3 separate regions of the Homo sapiens genome follow, and regions 1 and 3 are each linked to region 2. The links come from fine-mapping of genetic effects on gene expression. A gene starts in region 2. Each other region holds a variant in brackets. All regions are shown on one strand. Distances are from middle to middle.

Region 1 (8,272 bases), 65 kb before region 2:
TGTGTTCATTTATTCATTCCACAAACATTTTTGTGTACTTGGGAATCACACTAGGGGCAGGGAGATAAATGGCTGGGTTTGAATTATTGTTCTTATAGTTCTTAGCTCTGTGACCGTGGGCAAGTGAGTGAATTTCTCTGTGGTTCAGTTCCTACACCTGTAAAATAGGGACAATTGTTCTGCCTCATAGGAATCTTATGAGAGTACTTGGGATTTGGTTCTAGCTGTTGAAGTTTACCATGGTTTCTACAAGATTAAAGTTTGTTTCTGTGTTACGCGAAGTCCTGATGGGCATTTGGGCATTTGGGGTGGGCATGGTGAGACTCAGACTCCTTCTTTCCTGTGGCTCTACTGCCCTCGAGCTGCAGCCCGGGATGGCTGCTCTAGCTCCCACTTTGATTGGCACATTCCAGCCAACATGAAGGGAAGAAAGAGGGAAGTGGAATTCATACCCTTTCGTTTTGTTTTGTTTTTGAGATGGAGTCTTGCTCTGTCGCCCAGGCTGGAGTGCAGTGGCGCGATCTCGGCTCACTGCAACCTCCGCCTCCCGGGTTCAAGCAATCCTCCTGCCTCAGCCTCCTGAGTAGCTGGGATTACAGGTGCCCGCCACCATGCCCAGCTAATTTTTGTATTTTTAGTAGAGATGGGGTTTCACCACGTTGGTCAGGCTGGTCTCAAACCCCCTGACCTCATGATCACCCGCCTCGGCCTCCCAAAGTGCTGGGATTGCAGGCGTGAGCCACACCGCCCGGCCAAGTCGAGACAGGATTTCATCATGTTGGCCTGGCTGGTCTCGAACTCCTGACCTCAGGTGATCCACCCACTTCAGCTTCCCAAAGTGCAGAGATTACAGGCGTGAACCACCATGCCTGGCCAAAAAACTTCTCTTTAATTAAAAAAAAAAAATAGAGATAGGGTCTCTCTGTGCTGCCCAGGCTGGTCTTGAACTCCTGAGCTCAAGCAATCCTCCCACCTCAGCCTGCCAATGTACTGGGATTGCAGGCATGAGCCACAGTGCCCTGTCCATGCCCTTTCCTTTTCCTTTTATGAGGAAGTTGCAGATACGGTACAGTTCTATTGTTGTCCCATTGGTGAGAATTCTGTCACATGACATTCCTAGCTGCAGAGAAGCCTGGGAAATATATTATTTAACTATGAAGCCATGTTTCCCACTGAAATTTGTATTATTGTATAAGAAGGATACGAGTTGAGAGTGGTGTGCACTATGATCATGCCTGTGAATAGCCACTGTGCTGCAGCCTGGGCAACACAACAGGACCCTGTCTCTCTCTTTTTTTTTTTTTTTTTGAGACGGAGTTTTGCTCATGTTGCCCAGGCTGGAGTGCAATGGCATGATCTTGGCTTACTGCTACCTCTGTCTCCTGGGTTCAAGTGATTCTCCTGCTTCAGCCTCCTGAGTAGCTGGGACTACAGGCACCTGCCACCACACCCGGCTAATTTTTGTATTTTTGGTAGAGACGGGGTTTCGCCATGTTGGCCAGGCTGGTCTCGAACTCGTGACCCTCAGGTGATCCGCCTGCCTCAGCCTCACAAACTGCTGGGATTACAGGCGTGAGCCACCGCACCCTGCCCAATTTTTTTTTTTTTTTTTTTTTTTGAGACAGAGTCTTGCTCTGTTGCCCAGGCTGGAGTGCAGTGGTGTGATCTCGCTCACTGCAACCTCCACCTCCTGGGTTTAAGCAATTCTCCTGCCTCAGCCTCCTGAGTAGCTGAGATTACAGGCATGCACCATCATGCCCAGCTAATTTTGTATTTTTAGGAGAGCTGGGGTTTCACCATGTTGGCCAGGCTGGTCATGAATTCCTGACCTCAAGTGATCCACCCACCTTGGCCTCCCAAAGTGCTAGGATTACAGGTGTGAGTGAGCCACCTCGCCTGGCAACCCGTCTCTTAAAAAAATAAATAAATAAAAAAGGATACAATTAGAATTGAATAACAATTAGACATTTCTGCTACCACATGTTGGGTGCTTGACACAGTGAGCGCATAGCTGTGGTAGGCCCTCAGCAATGGATGGTGTTAACTGTAGTTAATCATTCATTTAGTTTTTCATTCATTCAACAAACGTCCATTGAGAACCTCCTCTGTGTCCAGGAGATATTGTAGTTATGGTGATAAATAAGACACATGTCCTTCCCTTAGGGGACTCACAGTCTGGTGTTGATAAGAAAACTGTTATATGATAGGTGTGCCAGAGGAAGGAACTATAGCCGCTGGCTTTAGAAAAACTTCCTGGAGAGGTCGGTGCAGTGGCTCACGCCTGTAATCCCAGCACTTTGGGAGGCTGAGGTGAGTGGATCCCTTGAGGTCAGGAAGTTCGAGACCAGCCTGGTCAACGTGGTGAAACCCCGTCTCTACTAAAAATACAAAAATTAGCCGGGCGTGGTGGCGCATGCCTGTAATCCCAGCTACTGGGGTGGCTGAGGCAGGAGAATCGCATGAATATGGGAGGCAGAGGTTGCAGAGAGCTGAGATTGTGCCACTGCACCCCAGCCTGGGCAGCAAGAGTGAAACTCTCTCTCAGAAAGAAAAAAAAAAAAAGAAAAGAAAAGGAAAGAAAAAGAAAAAAAGACTTCTTGGAAGAGGTGACAGTCAAGCTGAGGCTTGCAGAACAAGTTGTCCTCAGAGAGGCAGCCTGGCAGGGCGAACGGTGGATGCAAAGGCATGGGAGGAGTATGATCAGGTGGCTCATTTGGGGACTGATGAATAAATTCAGACAGGATAAAGGTTCTGGAGTTCTCAACTTTGTAGTGAACATACTTTACTGTTTTTTGATTTCTAATTAATTGGTACCTGGCCACATATGGCTATCCCTGCAGGAAACTGTGTGGTTTTTTTTCTTTTTTTTGAGATGGAGTCTCGCTCTGTTGCCCAGGCTGGAGTGCAGTGGCACGATCTGGGCTCACTGCAACCTCTGCCTCCTGGGTTCAAGCAATTCTCCTGCCTCAGCCTCCCGAGTAGCTGGGACTATAGGCGCGCACCACCATGCCCAGCTAATTTTTGTATTTTTAGTGGAGATGGGGTTTCGCCATGTTGTCCAGGCTGATCTTGAACTCCTGACCTCAGGTGATCCACCCTCCAAGGCCTCGCAAAGTGCTGGGATTACAGGCATGAGCCACTGTGCCTGGCCACCTGTGTGGCTTCGAAAACTCCCAGGAAGCACATAGTTGATGGCTGACACCTGCATGTCAAGTCGCAGCATGCCCCCCAGATTGCTGCTTGTGGTCAGCTGCAGTTCTCCTGTCTCATACTGTGATGCCCCTTGACATAGTCTTGCTTTTTTTTCATTACTTTACCTTCATCTGTGGCCTCTTCCCACTACTCTGCGGGTATGACCCCAGATGACGAGGATGTATTTCTCTGCGGGAAGTGTAAGAAGCAATTCAACTCGCTGCCAGCGTTTATGACCCACAAGCGGGAACAGTGCCAGGGGAATGCCCCCGCCCTGGCCACAGTCTCACTGGCCACCAACAGCATCTACCCACCTTCGGCAGCACCCACAGCGGTCCAGCAGGCCCCAACTCCTGCCAATCGCCAGGTATTTGTTCATTTATTCATTCAACATGTCTTTTTTGAGGGCCTAACATGCTCAGGCACTGTGCTGGGCACTGGG[G/T]CTATAGCAATGGATAAGACAGACCAAGTCCCTGCCCTTGTGGAGTGGGGCGAGATGGATGGTGCACATGTACTGTTTTCAGCATGTTAAATGCGGAGAGATAGGGGATGCCAGACGGGGATGGGAGGTTTTGCCATATTGTCTATCGTGCTTGGGGAAGAGCTCTGTGAAGAGGTGACCAGGAAGAATACTATATAGCAGGTAAAAGGTTTTGTATGAAAAATCAAATTGTAGAATAATAAGTAGATAATATATTATTATTTTTAAAATCTGAAACAATAGTACTATATAATTTCCGCAGTTACTTAAATAAGTAGGAAGAACATACCAGATAGACCTAAGGAGGTGTGGGAATGAGTTATGCGGCTGGTTTGGGGAAGGAAGCAGGAGCCAGGTGCAGGGATCAGCAGATGCAGAGGCCTTGAGGCAGGAGTGTGCTGGGTTTGTTCCAGAACTATAAGGAGGTGAGAGTGGCTGGGACTGAGTAAGTAGGAAGGTGGGAGGTGCTAGGAGAGGCAGCAGGAGGGTCTTGGCAGATCGTGTAGGGTCTGGGCCTTTTTTTTTTTTTTTTTTTGAGACGGAGTCTTGCTCTGTTGCCCAGGCTGGAGTGCAGTGGCGCCATCTCGGCTCACCGCAAGCTCCGCCTCCTGGGTTCACGCCATTCTCCTGCCTCAGCCTCCCAAGTAGCTGGGACTACAGGTGCCCGCCACCACACCAGGCTGATTTTTGTATTTTTAGTAGAGACGGGGTTTCACCATGTTAGCCAGGATGGTCTCAATCTCCTGACCTCGTGATCTGCCCGCCTCGGCCTCCCAAAGTGCTGGGATTACAGGCGTGAGCCACCGCGCCCGGCCTTTTTTTTTTTTTTTTTTTTTTGAGACGGAGTTTCACTCTTGTTGCCCAGGATGGAGTGCAGTGGCAGGATCTCGGCTCACTGCAACCTCCGCCTCCTGGGTTCAAGTGATTCTCCTGCCTCAGCCTCCAGAGTAGCTGGGACTACAGGCGCGCACCACCACGCCCAGCTGATTTTTGTATTTTTAGTAGAGATGGGGTTTCACCATGTTGGCCAAGATATTCTCGATCTCCTGACCTTGTGATCTCCCCGCCTCGGCCGCCCAAAGTGCCAGGATAACAAGTGTGAGCCACCACACCCAGCCGCTGGGGCTTTTACTGAGAATGACATGGGAGCCATTGGAGGCTGTCAAGCAGAGGAGGGACATAGTGACTTTTATCAGGTCACTCTGGCTGCTGGACAGAGAATAGGTTTTGAGGGAGGGTGAGAGAGAAAGCCAGGAGACCCGTTGAGGGACTGTAGTGCAAATCCAGGCAGTGGATGCGGGTAGCTTGACCAGCATGTTGGCAGTGGAGGTGGTGAGAAAGTGTGAGATTTTAGAAATACTTTGAAGGTGTTGCTGATAGAACTTGTGAATTGATTGGGTGAGGAGTGTGAGATCAAGAAGGGTCACAGAGGACTCCTGATTTAGAGTTGCCACTAGCTGAAGGGAGGAGGCTGTGAGGAGAAGGTTTTGGGGGGATGTCAGGAGTTCAGCTGGGCACGTTGAAGTTGAGATGCCTGCCAACCTTTAAACGGAGGCAGTGACAAAGTAGACAATGTAGATTTCCAAGTCCGGAGGCCAGAGCAGAGGACAAGGCTGGAGGCATCTGGGGAAGCTTCCAGAGTCCTCAGCCGAAAACACGGTTCTGGAGCAAAGACACCCTGGATAGGGGGCTCATAGAAAGACTAAAGGATCCCTCATAAAGGAGGCTGGGCATATCTCAGGATGCCAGGTCAAGGGGTCAGATTTTCAACTGGCTTCCTTTTCTTTCCTTATCCCTTTAGAACATTATCTTCATTCATTGTATAGGTGTCATTTCTGCCATCACTATGAAAGCATTCACCCCAGACCCATAGGACATATAGACTGAAACAGGCATCTTCTGGCATAAAACAGTCATTTTGGCCGGGCGCGGTGGCTCACGCCTGTAATCCCAGCACTTTGGGAGGCCGAGGCGGGCGGATCACGAGGTCAGGAGATCGAGACCATCCCGGCTAAAACGGTGAAACCCCGTCTCTACTAAAAATACAAAAAATTAGCCGGGCGTAGTGGCGGGCGCCTGTAGTCCCAGCTACTTGGGAGGCTGAGGCAGGAGAATGGCGTGGACCCGGGAGGCGGAGCTTGCAGTGAGCCGAGGTCCCGCCACTGCACTCCAGCCTGGGCGACAGAGCGAGACTCCGTCTCAAAAAAAAAAAAAAAAAAAAAAAAAAAACACAGTCATTTTTCTCACTGCTTGACTGTGAGTTTTGCTAGTAGAAAATATTCCCCTCACCATCTCTTACCTTTTTTTTTTTTTTTTTGAGACAAGGTCTTACTGTCGCTCAGGCTGGCCTTGGCTCACTGCAACCTCCATCTGCCAGGTTCAAGTGATTCTCCTGCCTCAGCCTCCTGAGTAGCTGGGACTACAGACACCCGCCACCATGCCCAGCTAATTTTTGTATTTTTATTGGAGATGGGGTTTCACTGTTGGCCAGGCTGGTCTCGAACTCCTGACCTCAAGTGATCCGCCTGTCTTGGCCTCCCAAAGTGCTGGAATTACAGGCATGAGCCACCGTGCCACACCAGATATTCTTCTTGACCTAAGATACTTGTGGACTTCATGTGGACATGTGTTCAGTGTTTCTCTAGCATAGATACAAGGAAGTATTTTTTTTTCTCTTGAGATGGAGTCTCACTCTGTCGCCAGGCTGGAGTGCAGTGGCACGATCTCAGCTCACTGCAACCTCCATCTCCCAGGTTCAAGCGGTTCTCCTGCCTCAGCCTCCTGAGTAGCTGGGACTACAGGCGCGCACTACCACGCCTAGCTACTTTTTGTATTTTTAGTAGAGATGGGGTTTCACCACGTTGGCCAGGATGGTCTCGATCTCTTGACCTCGTGATCTGCCCGCCTCAGCCTCCCAAAGTGCTGGGATTACAGGCGTGAGCCACCATGCCTGGCTGATACAAGGAAGTATTATTACTGAGTCATAGGGTATGTACTTTGCAGAGGGATGTGAGTTATTCTCCTCATTTGTTTTTTCTTTCATTCCGTTTTTGTTTGTTTGTTTTTAGAGACAGAGTCTCTAAAACCACACCAGCTGCGTGCAAAACCACACCGGCTAATTTTTGTATTTTTCTTGTAGAGACAGGGTTTCACCATGTTGCCCAGGCTGGTCTTGAACTCCTGGGTTCAAGTGATTCACCTGCCTCAGCCTCCCAAAATGCTGGGATTATAGTTGTGAGCCACCGTGCCCAGTCTTATCATCCTCATTCAGTAGATGATTAAATGGAGGCACAGAGAGGTAGAGTGACTTGCCCAGGGTCACACAGCAGGGAGCAGCAGAGGTAGAAATGGAATCCACGTCTGTGGGATTCCAGAACCTGGATCTTTTGTGCCATGCCCTCGGCTTACTTACAGAGCCTGACATGTCCACACATGCACACACGCACACATGAGCACACACACACTCTGTCTCTCTCCGTCTCACTCATTCTCTCTCTCCCACTGTCCAGATCTCCACATACATCACAGTGCCCCCGTCCCCACTGATCCAGACCCTGGTGCAGGGGAACATCTTGGTGAGCGATGATGTGCTCATGTCTGCCATGTCAGCCTTCACATCCCTGGACCAGCCCATGCCCCAGGGCCCCCCACCTGTGCAGGTAAGAAGGTGTGGGCTTCTCACAGGGTCTTGATTCCAGACCTGTACATTAACTCCTGCAGATTCAGAATCTTGTAGAATAAAGGGGGCCTGGCCCCAGCTCTCCCTGATGCTGAGGGAGGCTATCAGCTTTCCCTTGTCCAGCTCTGCTATAGATGGGGAAGCTGCTACGTCTAGGTGGGGACCCAGAACATGTGGGGCTTTGTCAATACAGTGCAGCTATTTTGACTTTTTTTTTTGAGATGGAGTCTCACTCTGTTGCCCAGGCTGGAGTGCAGTGGCACGATCTTGGCTCACTGCAACCTCTGCCTCCTGGGTTCAAGTGATTCTTCTGCCTCAGCCTCCTGAGTAGCTGAGATTACAGGCATGTGCCACCACAGCCAGCTAATTTTTTTTTGTATTTTTAGTAGAGACAGGTTTTCTCCATGTTGATCAGGCTGATCACGAACTCTTGACCTCAAGTGAGCCCCCCACCTCAGCCTCCTGAAGTGCTAGGATTACAGGTGTGAGCCACTGTGCCCAGCCAATTTTTGTATTTTTAATGGAGACGGGGTTTCACCATGTTGGCCAGGCTGGTCTCAAACTCCTGACCTCAGGTGATCCTCCCACCTTGGCCTCCCAAAGTGCTGGGATTACAGGATTACAGGTGTGAGCCACTGCACCCAGCCTGACTTTTGTTTTTGTTCTTTTTTTTTTTTTGAGACAGAGTCTTGCTCTGTTGCCCAGGCTGAAGTGCAGTGGTGCGATCTTGGCTCCCTGCAACTTCCACCTCCCAGGTCCAAGCAATTCTCCTGCCTCAACCTCCTGAGTAGCTGGGATTACAGGTGTGCGCCACCACGCCCAGCTGATTTTTGTATTTTTAGTAGAGATGGGGTTTCACTGTGTTGGTCAGGCTGGTCTCAAACTCATGACCTCAGGTGATCCACCTGCCTTGGCCCAAA
Region 2 (8,231 bases):
AACTCTGCCTCTGGGGTTCAAGTGATTCTCCTGCCTCAGCCTCCCAAGTCACTGGGATTACAGGCACGTACCACCATGCCTGGCTAATTTTTGTATTTTTAGTAGAGACGGGGTTTCACCATGTTGGCCAGGCTGGTCTCGAACTCCTGACCTCATGATCCATCTGCCTTGGCCTCCCAAAGTGCTGGGATTACAGGCGTGAGCCACTGCCCCCGGCCAAATGTGATATTATATGTACAGCACTTTGCACAATGCCAGAATGTGCATCGATGGTGCAATCACAGAATGTGCATCAATGTTAATTATTGTTGTTTTTCAAATACAATAGTTCTCCTTTATCCTCAGGTGTACCTGCAAGTGGATGCCTGAAAACATAAATAGTACTGAACTTTATATATACTGTGTTTTTTCTATATATATACATCTATGATAAAGTTTAATTTATAAATTAGGCACAGTAAGAGATTAATAACAACTATTAATAAAATGGGACAATTATAACAATATACTGTATTCAGTTTTGTGAATGTGGTCTCTCTCTCAAAATGTCTTACTGTACTGTATTCACCCTTCTTCTTGAGATTATGCGTGATGTCAAAATCCCTATGTGATGAGATGAAGTAAGGTGAATGACACAGGCATTATGAGGTAGTGTTAGGCTACTACTGACCATCTGAGATGTCAGGAGGACCATCTGCTTTGGGTGATCCTGGATCATTGAGCTATGACGATGTCAGTGGTTGGATATCAGGATCAGACGATGTCAACCAATGATTGGGGGTCCTTGGATAATTGCGTTTTTGCCAAAAACTTTTGGAAGAACATTATTACTGGAAGTTGTCTCTTTCTTTCTTTTTCTGAGATAGCATCTCAGTCTGTTGCCCAGGTTTCAGTGCAGTGGTGTGATCATGGCTCACTGCAGCCTCAACCTCCTGGGCTCAGGTGATCCTCCCACCTCAGCCTCCTGAGTAGCTGGGACTGCAGGTGTGCGCCACCACACCCAGCTAGTTTTTTGCATTTTTTGTAGAGATGAGGTTTCACCATGTTGCCCAGGCTGGTCTCAAACCTGTGAGCTCGAGTGACCCGCCTACCTCAGCATCCCAAAGTGCTGAGATTACAAGCGTGAGCCGCTGCACCTGGCCATCTCTTTCTATTTAATTCTTTTTTTTTTTTTTTTTTTTGAGACAGAGTCTCTGTCGCCCAGGCTGGAGTGCAGTGGCGCAATCTCGGCTCACTGCAACCTCTGCCTCTTGGGTTCAAGCAATTCTTCTGCCTTAGCCTCCCAAGTAGCTAGGATTACAGGTGCACGCCACCATGCCTGGTGAATTTTTGTATTTTTAGTAGAGACAGGATTTCACCACGATGGCCGGGCTGGTCTCAAACTCCGGGCCTCAAGTGATCTGCCCACCTCGGCCTCCCAAAGTCCTAGGATTACAGGTGTTAGCCACTATGCCTGGCCTCTTTCTTTTTAATTCATAGAAGTGTGGCTGCAGAAGTTGTAATCCTTTGGTGACCACACGAGTGGTTTTAATGCTGTGTTCTATCTGAGGATTGAATTCCATAATTTTGTCCTTTAATGTCTGTGCAATTTGAAACACTCGGCAAATTTTGATAACACCCATATTGCTGGTTCTGTTTCTGTTTCTCCTTCATTTTCCTCTTTCTTTGTAGATGACTTGACAAGTTCTTCCAATTCCACATTTGTTAACACTTCCCAGTGGCCTTCAATATGATCTTCCACTTCTTCATCAAGCATGTCCCCAAATCCTTCTCCACCAACTTGTCTTGCTGTAGCCTCTCCAGTAATATTTATTTATTTATTTGTGACAGGGTCTCACTCTGTCACCCAGGCTCGAGTGCAGTGGTGAGATCACAGCTCACTGCAGTTTCAAACTCCCAGGCTCAGATGATCTTCATGGCTCAGTCTCCTGAGCAGCTGGGACTATAGGCCTGTGCCATCATGCCCAGCTAAATTTTGTATTTTTTGTAGGGATGGGGTTTCGCCATGTTGCCCAGGCTGGCCTCAACTCCTGGGCTCAAGCGATCCACCTGCCTTGGTCTCCCAAAATGCTGGAATTACAGGCGTGAGTCACCGCACCCAACCTCCAGTAACTTTTTTTTTTTTTTTTGACACGGAGCCTCGCTCTGTTGCCCAGGCTGGAGTGCAGTGGTGCCATCTCGGCTCACTGCCAGCTCTGCCTCCCGGGTTCACGCCATTCTCCTGCCTCAGCCTCCTGAGTAGCTGGGACTACAGGCGCGTGCCACCATGCCTGGCTAATTTTTTTGTATTTTTAGTAGAGATGGAGTTTCACCGTGTTAGCCAGGATGATCTTGATCTCCTGACCTCGTGATCCGCCCGCCTCGGCCTCCCAAAGTCCTGGGATTACAGGCATGAGCCACCGCGCCCGGCCTTTTTTTTTTTTTTTTTTTTGACACGGAGTCTCTCTCTGTCGCCCAGGCTGGAGTGCAGTGGCGCAATCTCGGCTCACTGCAAGCTCTGCCTCCTGGGTTCACGCCATTCTCCTGCCTCAGCCTCCAGAGTAGCTGGGACTACAGGCACCCGCCGCCACCATGCCAGGCTAATTTTTTGTATTTTTAGTAGAGACGGGGTTTCACCTTGTTAGCCAGGATGGTCTCGATCTCCTGACCTCGTGATCCGCCCGCCTTGGCCTCCCAAAGTGCTGGGATTACAGGCGTGAGCCACCGCGCCCGGCTCCAGTAATTTTTTTTTTCTTTTTGAGACAGAATTTTGCTCTTTTCGCCCAGGCTGGAGTGCAATAGCACGATTTCAGTTTACTGCAACCTCTGCCTCTCAGGTTCAAGTGATTCTCCTGCCTCAGCCTCCCAAGTAGCTGGGATTACAGGCGTGCGCCACCACGCCCAGCTAATTTTTTTATTTTTATTTTTTATTTTTAGTAGAGATGGGGTTTCACCACGTTGGCCAGGCTGGTCTCAAACTCCTGACCTCAGGTGATCCATCCGCCTAGGCCTGCCAGAGTGCTGAGATTACAGGTGTGAGCCACTGTGCCCAGCCCATCCAGTAATTTTTATATTTTGCAGTCTAAACCTATTCCTAAGTCAGTGCAACCATCCATTACTTTCAGTAAGTGGCTTGGTGCCACTGGTTTTAGGAGATTCCTTGCTGAAGCCTTTATACAGGCTCAATGCTTTCTGGGGGGTAACAGGTTGCTGTCAGTTGGAACACATTTTTTGTTCGTGTCTTCCACGTATAAGCTTAATGCTTTTTCTTTTCTTTTGTAAAAAAATTTATTTTCTTTTTTTCCCCTGTAAGTAAGGATACAACTTAATGCCTTTTCTATCTTAACTAAGCACTTATCACACACTGTGGCTGTAACTTTTGCAGTTTGAGGTACGACAGCAAAACCAGCATGAATTTCTTTTTCCTCTTTCACAATTCTAGGGCTAGAAGATTCGTTCTTACTGCAGACCTCAGTAAGCTCAGCATACGATTTTTTTTCTTAAGCTCAGAACTTCCACATTTACATTTAAAGGAAGCACTTTACAGCTTCATTTTGGCATATCCAAACTGCCAGCATTACTACTCTTGCACTTTGGGGCCATTATATAGTAAAATGAGGGTTACTCGAACCAAAGCACTGCAACACCGTGGCAGTCCATCTGATAACTCCTAAGCTGGTAAGTAACTAACAGATGGTAGAGGTATGTTGGACAAAGGGATGATTCACATTGCAGGTAGGATGGAACAGGATAGCACGAGATTTCATTAGGCCAATGGAAATTAAAAACTTATGAACTGTTTATTTCTGGAATTTTCTATTTAATACTGTCAGACCTTAGCTGGCCAAGTGAAACTACTCAAAGTAAAATCTCAGATAAGGGGGACACTACCGTACTTAACTGGAGAAGATACTGCTTTGCTTCTGTGACCACAGAATTGACAGGTTGAAATTGGAAACAACTGTTGCCTTCACGCTTTTAAGACAACTTCACATGAATATACATGTGAAGTTCAAGCATGGCAGTATCCCATACTAGCAATAAATTTTTGAGCAGTGTTGCACACTTACTGTCATTTCTCTTACTGTTCTGCCACTCCTACAGAGCGCAGGCCAAGGAGACTACATTTCCCAGAATGCCACACGCCCTTTGACCCCAGCTACAGCAAAAGACGCGCCGGGGAGCGCCTGAAGCCGGAAGACTATAGCTTCCCGGCATGCAGCACGCTTCCCCCTATTAGATTTGAGGCGCGGCCGGCGCGTTGCCCACTGGGAGTTGTAGTCAGTGGCGCGTTGCCCTGACGCCTGCCGGGCCGGGCGTGGGGGCCTGTGGGAGGTGGCGCGGCCGGGCCCAGCTGCGGGGCGGAGGCGGAGGCGGAGGAGAGGCCTGCGGCGGCAGGGAGCGGCGGGACTGGGAGCGGGCGCCGGAGCCGACCCGAGCCGAGCCGAGCCGAGCCGAGCCGGAGCGGGCGGCGAAGGCCGGCGCGGCGAGCAGCAACCATGTCGGTGTTCGGGAAGCTGTTCGGGGCTGGAGGGGGTAAGGCCGGCAAGGGCGGCCCGACCCCCCAGGAGGCCATCCAGCGGCTGCGGGACACGGAAGAGATGTTAAGCAAGAAACAGGAGTTCCTGGAGAAGAAAATCGAGCAGGAGCTGACGGCCGCCAAGAAGCACGGCACCAAAAACAAGCGCGGTGAGGCTGCCCGGCCCCTTCAGACTTGCCACGGGCTCCCCCCAGGCTCCCCGGGCCCGGACTTCACCTTCATCAGACTCGCCTCGGGGTCTGGTCTGACCCTGGAACTCTCCGGGTCAGACTTCTTGCCGGGTCTGGGACCCCCTCCCCGACTCCCTTCAATGTCTCCCCGATCCCTGGACTTTTCCATCGTCAGACTTATTCTGCCCTCTCCCCTCAGCCTCTCTCCACCCCGCCAGGTCCCTTCAGACCCCAATCTCACAGCACTTTCCTCCGCCCTCACTCTGTCCCTTTCTCTTCCGCCTTTTCCTTCTCGCCTCACCCACCTGCCTAGCTACTGCCCCTGCCTCCTCCTCGGCTCATTTCTGCCCCCATCCTAGCATTTCTGTGCTTCCTGGTCCTACCTGTGCCCTCTCCCGACTCCTCGGTGGAATCTGTGAGCTGCCCCTTGGCCTCTCCCCTGTCCTCTTGTCTCAGAATTCTCGTTGAAAAGCCTCCTTGCTGGAGAGAAAAGGGGACTGGGGGAGATGAGACCCCCGATTCCTGCTCTATTCACTTGCTGAGTGAACTTGAGCAAGTTGCTTTCCCTTTGAGGCCTCAGTTTCCCCATCCGTCAGCCAGAGTTCGGCCTCTGTTGAGGCCTAAGGTGTTTTCCAGCGTTGTGATTCACTTTTTGTTGCCTCGTAGCTTGACCTTACCAAAGTTTCCCGTGGCGCAAGCCTTCACCCCATGACTCACCGCTTCCCCATCCGTCTGAACCAGAAATAGAGACTCCCGACTGCTCCCCAGTCCCCACTACTAGGATTCAGGGCCCCAGTATTGAATCTTGAGGCACTGCTTACTTTACTTCCTGTTGTCGTATGGCTTTCTGGGCATTCCAAGTGCTTTGTGTTTTTCTTAAGTGAGATGAATGTGAAAATGCTTTAAAACTGTAAAGCAGTTTAGAAATGTTTGCTTTTTCTTGTTATGGCCATGTGAGAGTGAATCACAGAACGACATCCCTTCCCCTTGAGAGGGGTTTAGGATTGAGGTAATTCACTCAGAAGTCTGCTAGTGACTAGCAGTGCGACCTTGAGCTCATTTACCTTTCTGAAAGGAAAATCATGGATTTACAGTGCTCAGCACATAGTAGGGGCTAAATCGATGTTTTCTCCATTCTAATAGGAGAACAAAATAGCCTATCTGGAGGATGCTTCTCTGCTGATAGTCAACAGATATTCTGGAAATTCTTTTTAGTGCCTGCTGCATGCGCTGTATTCATAGGGGTGAACAAAACACGGCCTCAACCCTAATGGGAGAGAAGACAGAAACAGGAAAATAAATGAAGAAAATATTGTCCGGGGGTGATAAGTACTAAACACACAAAAAGATGGTCTGATAGGGAGTGGTGGAGTGGGAGGGATGCCACTTTGGATAGAATGGTCAGGGAAGGCGTCTTTGAAAAGGTAAAGTTTGAACTGAGTCTGGAGAAGGAACCAGCTCTGTAAAAAAAAAAAAAAAAGGGGGAGGAGCCTTCTGGGCGTGGAAAGCAGCATGGGAAAAGGCTCGGAGGTTAGCAGGTTGTAAGAAACCGAAGAGAGAGACCCTTGTGTCCAGAATGTAGTGCTTGGAGGGAGAGTGGTATGGAATAAAGGGGGCGGGGCTTGGACTTTGAACCTGTTGGTGAAGAGTTTGAATTTTATTCCAAGTGGATGGAAAGTTTTTGGAGAGTATTTTGTTGGAACGTGTCCTTATTGACAGAGTTTTTAAAACATCATCTGGCTGCTCTTTGGAGAGTGGGTGGGGGATGCGGGTGGGAGCAGGGAGAACAGTGAGGAGGCAGCTGCAGTGGTCCATTTGTGGCTTGGACTCCAGCTTAGTTGTGGAGATGGGAACAGGGTTATATTTTGCTGTCTCTAGCTTTTTCCTCTGATGACTCTCCCTCAGTCCAGATCCTCTGTTTATGGTCATCAGAATCAGTGTTTTTAGCTTTCTGCATTTTGGAATGCAGGAGGAGGGTGTCAGTTTACCATTTTCCTCTGATCTTTTGGTCTGGAGCTAGCTTAGTTTCTGGAGTTTGTTTTTTTGTTTGTTTGTTTGTTTGTTTGTTTTTGAAACGGAGTCTCGCTCTGTTGCCCAGGCTGGAGTGCAGTGGTGCGATCTCAGCTCACTGCAACCTCTGCCTTCTGGGTTCAAATGATTCTCCTGCGTCAGCCTCCTGAGTAGCTGGGATTACAGGTGCACGCCACCATGCCTGGCTAATTTTTGTATTTTTAGTAGAGATGGGGTTTCACCATGTTGGTCAGGCTGGTCTTGAACACCTGACCTCATGATCTGCCTGCCTCGGCCTCCCAAAGTGCTGGGATTATGGGCATGAGCCATCGCACCCAGCCGTTTCTGCAGTTTTGGCGATCGAATTGACTTTCAAGGGGCTGCAGGAGAGCTCGCCAGCCAACTGTGGAGGACCAATCTCAGTTGTCAGACTTGCTGAAGGCAGGCTGTCTCCCTGAGTTTGCTTGAGAGGATGGGAGCTACTGTAACCTACCCTTCTTTTTAGCATCCTCTAGGAGGAAGGTCTTAGTGTGGGGAGGTGAACACTACCACATTACCATTCAGTTAGTCTGCTTATTCACCTGCCACTATGCTGGGACCTTGAGAGTCAGAGATGAAAATACACTGTGTCAGCCCTTCAGGAACTCAGAATTGGAAGTGTGGGGTGGGAGTGTATGTGCGTGTGAGAGAGCAGGAAATGATTATAACAGTGCAGAAACATGAGTGTGTACATGGGCTGAGGCTGCAGAGGAGGCGGCACCTGTTTGGGGGGAAGGATAAAGAAGACTTGGCAGAGGAAGGAGAACGTGAGGTGGGTCAGCAAGGAGTTGGGTGTGTTTGGGAGGCAGTGACAGTGTCGCCTCTGGAGTCTGTGGGTGGGACAGGAGATAACACTGAGAGTGGCCTGTAGTCTTTGGACCTTGACCTGGAAGTAGTGAGGAGCCCTTAGCTGTCCTTTATTTTTATTTATTCATTCACTTTAAGCAACAGGGTCTTGCTCTGACATCCAGGCCGAAGTGCAGTGGTGCAGTTATAGCTCAGTGCAGCCTGGCACTCCTGGGCTCAAATGATCCTCTCACTTCAGCCTCCTGAGTAGCTAGGACTTCAGGCACATGCCTAGCTAATTCAAAACATTTTTTTTTGTAGGGACAAGGTCTCGCTCTGTTGCCCAGGCTGGTCTCAAACTCCTGGCCTCGAGCGATTCTCCCGTATTAGCCTCCCAAAGTGTTGGGATTACAGCCACTGTGCTCAGCCCTTGGCTGGCTTTTAAAGCAGAGAGTCATCATATCTGTTTGGAATTTTGAAAGAGCACTCTAGCAGCAGCTTAAAGGAAGAAGTGTAGACTGACCAGGAAGGGACTGGAGGCAAGAATCCCATCAGGGGCAAGGATAGTGCCTTTCAGACCTGGGTTTGAGCTGCAGCTTCATCATTTCCTTGCTGGGTACCTGGGGCAGGTTACTCTGTACCTCAGATTCCTCCTCCACAAATCAGGGTACTAGTATCTGCCTGATTGGATGAAAATATGTTACGCA
Region 3 (8,000 bases), 22 kb after region 2:
TTCGTTGAGGTATAACGTATAGTAAGCAGATAAGTCTCAGGTGACACCTGAATGAGTTTTTTAAATGTATACACTTGTGTAACCATCACATAGATCAAGATATGAGAACATTCCAGCACTCAGCAGTCTGGAGGGTTTATAGCAGTCTAGGACTTGAGAAGAGAACAATATTTGTTTATTCTGGCCCCTTTTAGAATCTCAGAGGCCATTTATCCTTCTGTTACTCATTCAACATGTTTCCCAAACACCTTGTAGTACAGGGCACAGTGCTAGGTATTGCTGGGAGTACAGAAATGAAGAATTGTTGGCCTCTGTCTTGGGCTCACAGCCCATTAGGGATTATGACTTGAATCCAAGGGAGAAAGCGAGAAGAGCTGCGAGGAAGCTTGGAGGAGAGAGGCTGCTTCTTGCTGGGAGAGAGGAGGGTGTGTGGTATTTATGTAGACACAGAATTTTCCCCAGTTCTCTCTGTTTATAAACATAGGAAAGGGACCAGATTATGAACTTCAGCCCCTTCTCAGCCAGTTCTTTGCATTCTCAGACCACATTGGGTACTTGGAGAGGTGCAGGCCCAGCCGAGAATGCCCATCTGTGGTGTTTGCTCAGCTTTGCCTTTCCCTTGGGAAGCAGAAACAAACTCAGGCAAAAATAAGAGACACTTCCCTCCCTTTCTTTGGCCCCTAGGCTCTAAGGAACTGATTTCCCTTCTGTATTGGGTCTTAAGGCTATAAGGCCACAAATCTGTGAATTAATTTTGGCCTGAATTTCTTTCTTTGCCCTCTTTGGTTGAGTAATTAAAAATTTCAATTTCTTATGTGAAACCAGACCCCAGAAAGACTTTCCTGATCATTTTCATGTATGAGAAATAAGTTTTAGATTTTCTTTTAATTGGCTAATATATGCACGTACAGCTCTGTAGTTGGTAGGAAAGGAGGAGGCTGTATCCAGAGTAGACACATGGTGATCCCTTTCCTTAAAGAGAGTCTCCGGAGATAGTTTAAGACCAGTGCCTAATGTAGGGTCAGCCTGAAGAGATAACACCACAGGACATCTGAGCATTATAGAACCACATCTTGGTACATGTGTAGACAGACAGTAGATAGTAGATAGGAAGGGAAGAAGGGCAGATGGCTCTGCCTGGCTGAATCTTGTTCAGGTTCTGATGAGTTACTGGGTCTGGGAAATATAAACGACTTGAGAGATCATCTGGGCCCATTCCCCCACTCCCATTTTACAAATGAGGAAACAGACTTTGATTTGACCAGATCTGACTGGCAGCAGAGCTGGAACCAGAACCAGGTCTCACGTGTGGTGGAGAATGAAGACATTCTGGTGGAGTGCTCAGCAGGATGTGGAAGGAAGCTTGGCTGGGAGAGGGTGGTGGTGAAGAGGAAGATGAAAGGAGTGGCAGAAGCATTTGGTGGTTCCCTCAGCATATGGAGCCAGGAAAAGCAAGGCGCTGGGTGGGAGAGACACTGAGGCTGTTGATCATCTCAGGGGAGGGACCTGAAAGCCCTACAGCAAGAGGGTATGGGGGATACTGTGGCCAGGCTGAAAGATTTTGAATGGCTTGGACATCTATAGTGCTTATCTTCCTTGTGTTAGTTAGCTTGGGCTGCCATAACAAAATACCATAGACTGGGTGGTTTAAGCAACAGAAATTTATTTTCTCAGTTCTGGAGACTCAGTCGATGGTCAAGGTGCTGGGTAATTCCGTTTCTGGTGAGAGCCCTCTTCCCAGCTGGAAGACAGCTGCCTTCTTGCTGTGTCCTCACATGGCCTTTCTGTGGAGTGTGTGTTGTGCATTGCAGGGAGTGGATAGAGAGCGGGGGCGTCTCTCTTCCTATAAGGCTAATAGTCCTGTCAGATTAGGGCCCCATCCTTGTGATGTCAGTTAGCCTTAATGACCTCCAAGAGGCCCCATCTCCAAATGCAGCCACACTGGGGCCAGGGCTTCAGCATATGAATTCTGGGGGGATACAGGTCAGTCCATAGCACTCCTTAGCTTTTTGTTTTCTGATTGACTACTTTAGGACCCGTGAGGTATTGTTTTTCTTGGTAGGGAGGCTGCTTTCTGACATTCCTTTCTTTACATTATTTTCTAAACAATCAGATTATAATCTAGCACTGTGAATTAATTGTTCAAAGGAACAGAGTTTTTTTTTTTTTTTTAGTTTTTTTGAGACAGGGTCCTGCTCTGTCACTCAGGCTGGAATACACTGGCATGAAAATGGCTCATTGCAGCCTGGACCTCCACAGCTCAAGGGATCCTCCCACCTCAGCCTCCCAGGTAGCTGAGACTGCCTATGCTCAGCTAATTTTTTTTTTTTTTTTTTCCAGATAGCTTTGTCACAAGACTCAGGCTGGAGTGCAGTGGCGTGATCTTGGCTCACTGCAACCTCCACCTCCTGGGTTCAAGCGATTCTCCTGCCTCAGCCTCCAGAGTAGCTAGGATTACAGGCACGTACCACCACGCCTGGCTATTTTTAGTGGAGACGGGGTTTCACCATGTTGGCCAGGCTGGTCTCGAACTCCTGACCTCAAGTGATCCGCCCACCTCGGCCTTCCAAAGTGCTGGGATTACAGGCATGAGCCACTGCACCCGGCCGTCCAGCTAAGTTTTAAAAGTTTCTGTGAAGATGAGGTTTCGCTGTGTTGGCCAGGCTGGTCTTAAACTCCTGACCTCAAGTGATCCGCCCACCTTGGCCTCCCAAAGTGCTGGGATTACAGGTGTTAGCCACCGTGCCTGGCTGCCCAGCTAAGTTTTAAAAATTTTTGTGGAGATGAGGTTTCGCTATGTTGCCCAGGCTGGTCTTGAACTCGTGGCCTCAAGTGATCCTCCTGCTTTGGCCTCCCAAGGTGCTAGGATTACAGGCATGAGCCACTGCACCTGGCCTCAGAGATTATGTTCTCTCAGTGTTTCAGTGTCTGGTAATTCTGTGCAGTTTGGAGTTTGTTCTTTAATTTTATTATTTTCACATATACAGTTGTAATCGACAGTGTTCAGCAGGGAAGATCGGATAACAAACCCATGAACCAGACTGTTTTTGTTTTTTAATTGCGCTAAGGTATACATAACATTACAGGTGTGAGCCACCGTGTCTGACCTGTGCCCCATTTTTTAAGGACAAGGCAAGACTACCTTTTCCCGAAAGAGAATCAGCTTCCTGTGCCCTTCACCCCTTGCTGCCTCCTGGGCAAGGAAAATCATTTGTCTGCAACCCCTTCATCATGTCTCTCTTGATTCCAAAAGCATAAAAGGCTGGTTGGGTTTTCCCTCTTGCCTTGCTTTTCTAACAAGCGCGCACATTGGAAGTATTTTTCTGCCGGCATTTCACTCTCTTCCCAACTTCCCCACAAACGTCCCCAGCCCCCATACCTCCGTTGTCATCTCGGTTGCCAGGGTGCTCTCATGCTTGCTCAGGCAGAAGGGGGCCCTTGTTGGCATGGATTCAGCTGGAAGCAGAGGAAGAAAAGCCAGTCGGAAAAG[A/G]AAGAGTGCATCCCAGCCTGGGAACGGAAACCCAAAGCAGGCTGTTTCCCCTCTGTCCCAGCCAAGAACCTGGTCACCTCTCAGCAAGCCTGGCTAAGAGCATCCAGCCTGGGACCTGGCGGGTGGGGGAGGAGCTCAATCAGTGCCTTCATTCCACCCGAGGGCCACACCAAAGCGCCAGTGCCAGTCATAATCAGGTTGTTCTTAGTAAATGATTTGCTTTTTAAAATATAACTGTCTTTCCATGTCTGGGGATGAGGAAGAAATAGGCTGTTGTTTTTGTTTGTTTTGATTAGGTAGTCATGTAAATGGTACATAATTTTAAAAGTGCCTTCGTTGCCTCAGTCACTCCCTTCCTAGAAATGACCAATTACAAGGCCCTGAGGTAGTCTCTGCAATTAAAAACATGTACCATACCTATGTATTCTCCTGAGACACGCCCATGTATGAATGGTAGTAATTAGGTTACCTTTGAATCCTGTGCTCTTTATAGTTTTACAATAAATGATTTTTTTTTTTTTTTTTTAAAGAGACAGGGTCTCGTTCTGTTGCCCAGGCTGGAGTGCATTGGCGCAATCATAGCTCACTGTAACCTCAAACTCCTGGTCTCAAGCAATCCTCTCGCCTCAGCCTCCCAAATAGCTATGACTACAGGTGTGCACCACCATGCCTGGCTAATTAAAAAAAAATTTTTTTTTTTTTGTAGAGACAGGGTCTTACTATGTTGCCTAGGCTGATCTCAAACTCCTGGCCTCAAGCGAACCTCCTGCTTTGGCCTCCCAAAGTGCTGGGATTGTAGGTGTGAGCCACCACGGCCAGCCAGAAGTGATTTGGATTTGACCCACTCTGAAGTCCCTGAACTCCATCTTCCTCATATGGATTTAGAGAAGGTTAATTCAAACTTCAGGTGCTAACTTGAATTTTGAAGCCCATGGCCCCACAGAAAGATCTGGGAGAATAGTTTCTCCCTCCCTGCCTTATCTTCTCTTCCCTGAGTTACTGGTCTCTCTGAGAAATGGCATCTCCACCACCTGGTTGCCCCAGCCAGGAACTTGGAACTTATTCCTGACTCAGTCTCCATTTCCTTCTGTTGTACATTCAAACAGGTGATACAGGCCCATGGTCTTCCCTCTTGGTATCTCTCAAGTTCACCCTCTCCTGGTCAGCCCCTCTGCTGTGGCCTCAGTTCAGGCTCTTGAAATCCACACCCTCTGGATTATTGCAGTGGTTGCCAGCCCCTTCTCCCCACAGCAGCCAGAGGGATCTTTCTGAAATGTAAATCTGATCACGTTCCTGTCCTGCTTTGAATCTTTCAATGGCTTCCTGCTAACCCTGGGATAGATTCCAGCAGCTCCTTAACAAGACATCCAAGTCTGTCCTTGAGTTTCTCTCTTTAGCTTTTATCTTTCCTTGTTCCCTCCCCTATTTTCTCATGCCTCTCTTTTCCTGCTGCTTGGATATATTCCTCTGGGCTCTCTCCTACCATCCTTTAAAATGCATGATAACCCCAAAGGTTAGTTTCCCCCCTCTAGGCATCCACAGTAAGTGTCCTGTGCTGACCTCTGTCATGTATTACATTGTCCATATCTGCTGGCCTGTGAATTCCTTCAGCCTTGGGACTGTATCATTTTTGTCCCTAGTTCCCTAGCAGGGTATCATGAGCAAAGTGTAATTCCTGGTACAGTAGAATGAGCAAAGGAATTGCCTGTTTCATCTAAGCCGTTGCATCCTTTGTAGTATTGGTATGAAGTTGCTTCATCTTTTCTAGTATTGTCATGAAGTTGTTCATAATATCCCCTTTTTATCCTTTTAATATTCCTGGAGTCTGTAGTGATATCACATTTATCATTCTCGATACCAGTAATCTTTTTTTCCTGGTCAGTCTGGCTAGAAGTTCAATCTTGTTGAACTTCTCGAAGAGCCAGAATTTTATTTCATTGACCTTCTTTCTCTTTTGTTTCTTTTTTGTCTTTTATTGATTTTTCACTTCGATCTTTATTCCCTTTCTTCTGCTTACTTTGGATTTTGTTTGCCCTTTATTTGTATTTGTATTTTTTTTTGGAGACAGGTTATCACTCTCTCACCTAGGCTGGAGTGCAGTGGCACAATCATAGCTTACTGCAGCCTCAAACTCCTGGGCTCAAGTGATCTTCCTTGCCTCAGCTTCTCAAGTAGCTGGGGCAGTACAGGTGCCTGCCACCGACTAATTTTTGAAAAAAATTTTTAATAGAAATAAGGTCTTGCCACGTTGCTCAGTCCCAAGCTGGTCTTTTTCTAGCTTGTTAAGGTGGAAGCTGAGGTCCATTTGAGATTGTTCTTTTCTAGTGTAGGCTTTTAGTTCCCTTAAGGTACCACATTGGTGGCATCCCACAAATTTTGATATGTTGTGTTTTTATTTTCATTCAGTTCAAAATACTTTCTGATTTCCCATTTCATTTCTTCTTTGACCTACGGCTTATTTAGAAGTATATTATTTAGTTCCTAAATGTGTGGGGATTTAACAGATTTTCTGTTCGTGATTCCTATTTATTTTATTTTTATTTTTGTTTTGAGATGGAGTCTCACTCTGTCGCCCAACCTGGGGTGCTGTGACGTGTTCTCAGCTGACTGCAATAACCTCCACCTCCTGGGTTCAAGCGATTCTCCTACCTCAGCCTCCCGTGTAACTAGGACTACAGGCACACGCCACCACGCCCAGCTAATTTTTGTAGTAGAGACGAGTTTCACCATGTTGGCCAGGCTGGTCTTGAACTCCTGACCTCAAGGGATCCGCCCGCCTCGGCCTCCCAAAATGCTGGGATTACAAGCGTGAGCCATCGCACCTGGCCTATGATTCCTAATTATTAAATTCCATCCCAGGTGATAGAAGTAATGAGATTCTTTAAAAATATTGCTCCACTGTCTTCTTGCTAGCATCGTTTTCTATGAGAAATCTTTGTCATCTTTATTTCAGTATATGTAATGTATATTTTTTTCTTTGTCTGCTCTTAACATTTTATTACTGATTTTGAGCACTTTTAATATGATGTGCTTTGGTATATGTGGTCTTCTTCAAGTTTCTTAAGCTCCAGGGTCATTGAGCTTCTTGTATCTGTGGGTTTAAAGTTTTCATCAAAGTGGAAAATTTTTGGCCGTTATTTCTTGAAATGTTTATTCACCTGCCCTCCTCCTTTGGGGACTCCAGTTACATGTATATAGGTTACCTGAAGTTATCCCACACCTCACTGCTGCTCTGCTGATGTTTAAAATTATTTTTTCTCTCTGTATTTCATTTTGGATAGTTTTTATTGCTATTCAAGTTTACAAATCTTTTCATCAATGAAGTGTCTGATCTGCTGTTCATCCATGTAATAATTTTAATCTCTAGAAGCTCGATGTAGGTGTTTAAAAAGATTATCTTAGTCTATTTGTGTTGCTATTAAAGAAATACCAGAGGCTGGGGTATGTATAAAGAAAAGAGGTTTATTTGGCTCACAGTTCTGCAGGCTGTATAAGAAGCATGGTGCCAGCATCTGCTGCTGGCGAGGGCTCAGGCTGCATCCACTCATGGTGGAAGGCGAAGGGGAGCTTATGTGTGTGGCGAGAGAGAGAGGAGGAGGTGCCAGGCTCTTTTTAACAACCAGCTCTTTCGGGAACTGAATAAGAACTCACTTACTCCTGGAGAATGGCATTAAGCCATTCCTGAGGGATCCGCCCCCATGATCCAGATGCCTCTCACTAGGCCCCACCTCTGACATTGGTGATGAAATATCAACACGAGACTTGGCAGGGTCAAACAAACCGTATCCAAACCATAGCAAATATCTTCCCTGTTTCTCCTTCGCTTTTTAAGCATATAGACTATAGTTATAACTGTTTTCATCTCTTTGCTAATTTTGACATCTGTGTTAGTTTGGGTTACTTGGAATTTGTTGATTTTACTCTGCATCATGGGTGTTATTTACCCATTTCTTTGCATAAATGGTAGATTTTGATTAGATGTCAAATGTAAATTTTGCCTTGTTGGGTACTGAATATTTCTGTCGTCCTATATTCTTTATGTTTTGGGGGCACAAGTTTTTGGTAACAATTTGCCTTTTGGGTCTTGGGTCTAAGAATTATTAGGCAGGCCCAGAGCAGTGTTTATCTAGTATAGAGCTAGTTAATCCCTACTATTAAGACAAGGCCCTCCTGAAGGCCCTCCAAGAAGAATTATGAGGCTTTTCTAATCTAGCTGAGGAAGAGGCACTATGACTGGCCCCATGTGAGTACTTAATATTATTTATTCTCTGTCATCCTTTTGAGTGGTTCTTTCCCTGGCCTTAGATAGCTTTTTCACACATGGGTGCTGATCAGTATTCTGCTGAATACTTGAGGAGGACCCTCCGTGGCTCTCCAGGGTTTTCTCTCTCCATGCAGCTCTCTCCTCAGGTACTCTCATGAACTCCAGCTGCGTTGGTCTCCCCAGACTCTCAGCTCTATCTCATTAATTCAGGAAGTTGCTGGGCTCTGCCTGGGTTTTCCTTGCCTG

Alleles and levels. Alleles are on the strand shown, and positions count from the first base shown. SD is a standard deviation of normalised expression in the study named. Not every link is listed here.
For the expression in putamen of the gene that starts at base 4,358 in region 2, allele G in region 3 goes with a lower level than allele A (small effect, 0.32 SD a copy in GTEx).

The links. PIP is the estimated chance that this variant, and not a neighbour inherited with it, causes the effect. A credible set is the group of variants that fine-mapping cannot tell apart.
Region 1: its variant is the best candidate, but not a certain one, in a credible set for the expression of CHMP4B in whole blood (INTERVAL, PIP 0.64).
Region 3: its variant is the best candidate, but not a certain one, in a credible set for the expression of CHMP4B in putamen (GTEx, PIP 0.88).

The regions. Positions count from the first base shown.
Region 1 is chr20:33,741,741-33,750,012 of GRCh38, forward strand. It overlaps ZNF341 (zinc finger protein 341), which reads left to right. Exons shown (of 15, transcript NM_001282933.2): 3 at 3,363-3,559; 4 at 7,183-7,332. Among named protein-coding and RNA genes, the nearest start is that of ZNF341, 14 kb to the left of the region's middle. The variant G/T (reference allele first, on the strand shown) is at 3,635.
Region 2 is chr20:33,806,991-33,815,221 of GRCh38, forward strand. CHMP4B (charged multivesicular body protein 4B) reads left to right here and starts at 4,358. Exons shown (of 5, transcript NM_176812.5): 1 at 4,358-4,668. The coding sequence starts at 4,479. It overlaps ZNF341-AS1 (ZNF341 antisense RNA 1), which reads right to left and starts at 4,109. Exons shown (of 4, transcript NR_110623.1): 1 at 4,050-4,109. RefSeq lists enhancers at 4,033-4,327, 4,067-4,146, 4,913-5,753, 5,582-5,651 and a silencer at 4,207-4,486.
Region 3 is chr20:33,828,778-33,836,777 of GRCh38, forward strand. The region is part of intron 1 of CHMP4B (charged multivesicular body protein 4B); the gene reads left to right. Among named protein-coding and RNA genes, the nearest start is that of CHMP4B, 21 kb to the left of the region's middle. The variant A/G (reference allele first, on the strand shown) is at 3,491.